2 separate regions of the Homo sapiens genome follow, and region 2 is linked to region 1. A link means that fine-mapping ties the variant in region 1 to the expression of a gene that starts in the linked region. Tissue or cell type: esophagus mucosa. Region 1 holds a variant in brackets; the other region holds the start of a gene. All regions are shown on one strand. Distances are from middle to middle.

Region 1 (2,629 bases):
TTTGTACTCTGTTTCCCAAAATGACTTGAGTGGCTTATGAGAAAAACATAAACAAGACAGGAAAAATAAAATAAGGACCAAAGAAAGAAAGAAACTGAGCAAAAGAGAGAGAGGGTGAGAACACCCCCAGTCGTACCTCCATGACCCACAGTCTGAGGCCTTATTCAGAGAGAATTTTCTAACTCTTTGACCAAGCGCACTGAGGCAGGGCATTGGATCTGGTGGCCCATCCCTCACATGGGCCACTTTCCAGTGGACAACAAGGAGCCCCCAAAGCTGGCACAGTGGACCCTGCCTCATTTCCTCTGCCCCTATTTTCCCAGGCCCTCATGACTTGCACCCCTCACCTATCACCACCCCACCTCACGGTCCCCTGTCCTGAGCCAGTCCCCAAAGAGTCTTGCTCACTGGTCCCCATCCTGCCTGCTGGGGCCTGGGTCTCTTTCCCACACCCTGAACCTGGTGGCCCACCCAGACCTCAGGCATGGTTGACTCTCTGTTGGGCTTATGCAGAGTGGGTGCCCAGGGGAGGCACTCATGTCTCTGACTGGCCGGTACTGGCTAGCTAAGCATGGTGTGAGGTCAGTGGGTCACACCCAGGGTAGGGCTGAGGTCCATGCCGCCTGCCATGCCCTCCGACAGTGGCTCTTAATGCCTGACTTGCTGATGCCCAGAACAAAGGTTCCTAATTCTTTTAGTTGCCCCCATTTGAGAGTCTGATGAATACCATGGTCCCTGTCCCCATAGACACCACATTTTGCATACCATTTTGGGGAAGGGCAGATTTCTGAAGCCTCTCTGGAGAGCATGGACCTTAAGGTTCGAGACCTCTACTCTAGCAGCTACATCTGCACGTGAGATTGTCCCGCCAGGAGGCACCTACAACTTCCCAAGGCCTGACTGCCACCATGCCCTGCCTCAGAGTGGACAGCAGCCCTGAGAGTGACATAGCCAATAATGTCTTCATGCCACAGTCCTTGCCAAGCAATGGCCAAGACTGTGTGCACAGAGATTGTGCAGGTCACTCCAAGGACACCACAGGGCAACCTCACTTCTGAAAATAATGCTGAGCGACCAGTGACTGAACCCTTCCTACGTGCCAGCCACTGAACAACAAGACCTTACAATGTCATACTTGTACGATGACTAACTGAGGACACTGAGGCTCCGGAACGTGAAAAAGCTT[G/C]TCCGAGGGTTACATAGCCAGATCTGCCTGTATTTCACCCACTGCCTCTCCCGGTGGCAGAAGCCAGGCCTCTCTCCAGGAGGTGGGTTCCCAGGCCCTGGCACTGCACCCCCTTACAGCACAGGTTGCCTTTCAGCCCCAGGAAACATGCCCACAGAGATCATGGCATCTCCCCCGGCCCCATTTGTGTAGGGCAGACAGGAGTCCTATCCTGTGGAACACCATGTGCCTACCGGTATGCAACTGGCTGGAGCTTACACAGCTGGGAGGACACAGCCTGTCCTGGACCCCACATCTGAGTGAATTCAGGCCTCCATCTACCACACTGACCCTCTGTAATCCATCCCAAAGTCATTCCCCAGGAATTTCCTTTTTTTTTTTCTTTTCTTTCTTTCCTTTTTTTTCTTAAAGAGGCAGGGTCTCGCTCTATCACCGAGGCTGGAGTGCAGTGGCACTATCGTAGCTCACTGCAACCTCAAACTCCCAGCCTCGAGCAACCCTCCCACCTTGGCCTCCCAAAGCACTGGGATTACAGGCGTGAGCCACCACGTCTAGCCTCCCCAGGGATTTCCAACACTTGTTTTTTGACCTCAGAAGAGTCTCTTTGCCTCTCTGTTGGGCTTTCAATTCCTCTGCTGGTGAAACTGAGTCTTGTGGTCTGGGGTCCTGTCATCTGACATCTTTCAACTCTCGAAGGCCTGGGATGCATGGGGCCTGCAGCTGCTGCGTGTGAATGGATCTGGGTTTGACCTGAACATCTGTTTCTCTATCCACGGAATAAAAATACTTTGGTCCAGTTTGAGCTGTATGCTTTTAGGAAGAACAAAAACAAAAAGGGGGGTGGGGTGGGGTGCGGGTAAGACAGAGAACAAATGACAACAAGACCCAGGCAGGAACAGGCAGAGGGAAAGTCCTTGAAGCTCTGTCTGCAGAAAGGCTTGATCTTTCCACCCGGAATTCGGGTAATTCAGGCTTCTTGTGATGCGGCCAGTGGGCTGTGGCTCTTCAGGGCCCACCATCTGCTCCCAAGGGGTGCTCGTGGGAGCCTACCCTCCTCCCCTTAGCCAAAGGCAGGCAGCGGGGGTCACTAGTGGGACTGAGAACTGCTCCAGCAGGGCTGCTTGGGGTGCCCAGCAGCCGGGCATGGGACCCTTGCCCTGGGTAGGCGGCTGCTAGGGGCTCTGGGTGGCACCTGCGGTGCCCCCGACATCCCCTCCCCCTACGCCGCTGGGGGCTGCTGAAATTAGAAGAGGGAGTCGGGAAGTCATACCCCTCCCTGTGGGCGTCGGGTTGCACTGTTGACTAACTTAGAAAGCGAGATTTCTAAAAATGATGCTGGGGCTGCAGGCTGCGGGCTGCGGGCTGCGGGCTGCGGGCTGCTGCCGCGGCGGGGGCTTCCGGCGGCGCTCTCTTCTGGGTCCCCCACCCCTGGACCAGCGACCG
Region 2 (2,702 bases), 84 kb before region 1:
CGGTGGCTACCACGGAGCAACAGTTCATTGGGAAAGGAAAGGGGAGGGAGGAGGCTCAGGGATGGTCCTGTATCAGCCTGTGCCTTGCAGGGGTTCAACCATGCAACCCCAACCGCGTTCCTTTGCTTTTAAGTCGAACCAGTAGAGCGTTTTGTTTCAAACTACGTACATCCTTTGTCCTTTACAATATCCCGTCCTAGAACCCCTTAAAAATCAGTTATTTAGATGAGAAAGTCGAGCCCTGTACCTGGAGAGGCCAGTTCTGTATAGCGGAAAAAATGAAACTGGGGACCGGCTGGCCAGATATCGGAGGTGGGAGAGATGCTTTGCAGTCTTTTTCCCTTTCCTTTCCATTTTTTTTAAAGTGGGGTGGAAGAGATACAGGGTACCCCATAGGAAATAAGTTTTCTTCCAAAGGGTTGGAGGAGAACGGGATAGTCACACCCCTCAGTCCAGCCAACTGCGAAAGCGTCCCTCCCTACCCGCCGACCCTCAGGGTCCCGCACACGCCGGGCGAGGAGCCCCCACCCTGGGTCGCGCCGCGCGGAGGGGCCTACGGCTGGGGATGCAGCCCGGGGCGCGCCCACGCCCCCAGCACAGACTGGCCAGGCGCCAGGTTCCCGGCTCTCACTCACCCGCGCTCCCGCCTCTGGGGGCCCGGCCGGAGGGTCCCCGCTGTGTCGCGGCGCCTGGCTCAGGGGCCCTGTAGCTGGGGCCGGGGGTCGCGGGCCCGCGGCGCTCCCGGGGCGGCGTGGGCGGCGGCTCGCGCTCCGGGCGGCGCTCCAGCTGCAGCTCCAGCCCCGCTCCCGCGAGGGGCGCCAGGCTCAGCGCGCGGCGAGCCGGGGAAGGCGGCGGGTCCCGCGTCCCGGGGGCCGCCGGCGGCAGCAGCAGCAGCGGCAGCAACAGCAGCAGGAGCGGCGGCGGCCACCGCGAGGCGCGCGGCGAGGCCATGGTGACGGCGCCCGCCCGCGCTCACATGCCCGGCGCGCGGGGCGAGGGCAGCGGGCAGCGGGCAGCGGGCGGCGGGGGCCGCGCGGGGCCGGGGAAGTGAGCGGAGTGAGGCTGCGAGCGCGCTCCCCGCCTCAAAAGTTATCGGGAGCCGCGGGAGGGCTGCCGGGGGCCGGGCTGGCTGGGCGGAGGCGGCCCGCGGCGCCGCTACATGCTAATTAGCCCGGGCGGGTCGCTGGCTGGCGGGCGGCTCCTCCTCAGTTGACATCACCGGCCCCGCGCGGCGGGCCCGGAGGCGGGGAGAGGGCAGGAAGGGGGCTGGGGCCGGGCGCCTGGAGAGCGGCCCGGCCCGGGACAGCGGGATGAGGTCAGCGGAGCCACGGTGCTGCAACTTTTGTCACACACATGCTCCAGAGTCTTCTGAATCGGGCACCACCTACCCAACTCCTTAAACGCACAAGAAGTAGGTGAAAAGCAGGTCCTGGGTAATGTGATTAGCACCAGACTAGATTATCCCAAGTGCTTTGATAGGAGAGAGAAAGGGAACGGTCCCCTGGTACCCAGCCCGCGCTGTCACCGCCGTTATTGATTTGAAGTGTCCCCACTCCCACCCCCACCTCCCCTTCTTCAGGCCCCAGGGCTGGTGATGAGCTCGTGTTTGCCAAACCTAACACCTCACCCTCCGGCCAACGCGAGAATCCGAGTATCCCCCACGCCCTCTCAAGCTTGGATGCCGTTCCCATCCGACCACTGCCTTTGGCTCACACCAGAGTTCTGCAGAGATGTCACCGCGAGGACACCCAAACAGGCTGCAGGGAAAAGAAAACTGTGAATTCAGGCAGGCTAGGGCAAACTCATCATCAGGAAAAGAACTGCAGATCGCAAATTAAACCAAATGATGCCCAGAGAACACAGAATTTTAAATGGAAACCTATGGGGAAAGATTCAAAGATTTCATGTAAACAAATTTTCTTGGTCAATAAAGTTCCATTTGTTTCCATAACCTCTCCCTCCCCAGTAAATGAATAATAAACTGTCTAAAGTTTAGGACTGTAAGCCACCTCATTAAGTGAAGAAAGAGGGGCTCAAATGGGAAAATAACTTGCTCAAGATTCTGAAGGTAGACCCGAAGACGAAATGATTGATCTGTGAATGACCATGTGATATTATTAATTCTGGTCTCCTAATTCAGAGTTTGCAATAATTCGCAAACGGAAACAAATAGTATTGCAACAGAAACAAATGTTGCAGCTCCTTGGGGTTCTTGCGAGTTCTGTTGGGGGCCCCTGTCTGACAACCAAATGCTCGTGAAAATATGAGTATGCACCTCACTGTCAGGCCTGGCTCTCCATCCTATTTCTCTGCTCTTCTCTTTTTCTCTGTCTCCAGATCTCCATGACCCACCTCCAGGAGAATGAGATCGTAGTGTCCAGGGCAGCTGCAGATGGGCCTAGGCCCACTTTCTGGTGACTCAGTACAAGTGAGTCATTTGGCAGAAAAACATAAAGGAGGCTGTGTATAAACAAACTCACCTTAAATGAGAGAATGAGGAGTAAAGATTTGGTTTTATTTTGTTTTGTTTTTAAACAAACCAGCTTTCCAGGGCTCTAACACAGAACTTCCAGGTCTCTCCAAGAAAGTACCAAACAGTAATCTCCCTGAAACTGACTTGGTTTGCTCCCATGGCCTGAGCTTAACTTCTCTGGATGCTGCTCTCACATTAACAGGCAGGACTGCACAGCTGCCCAGACCCA

The links. PIP is the estimated chance that this variant, and not a neighbour inherited with it, causes the effect.
Region 2: it holds the start of HEG1, and the variant in region 1 is fine-mapped to the expression of HEG1 in esophagus mucosa (GTEx, PIP 0.97).

The regions. Positions count from the first base shown.
Region 1 is chr3:125,139,142-125,141,770 of GRCh38, forward strand. All of the region lies in intron 5 of SLC12A8 (solute carrier family 12 member 8), which reads right to left. Among named protein-coding and RNA genes, the nearest start is that of MIR5092, 11 kb to the right of the region's middle. RefSeq lists a silencer at 2,440-2,629. The variant G/C (reference allele first, on the strand shown) is at 1,187.
Region 2 is chr3:125,054,940-125,057,641 of GRCh38, forward strand. It overlaps HEG1 (heart development protein with EGF like domains 1), which reads right to left and starts at 1,058. Exons shown (of 17, transcript NM_020733.2): 1 at 636-1,058. The coding sequence starts at 951. RefSeq lists silencers at 552-711, 772-861, 942-1,321 and an enhancer at 1,572-1,621.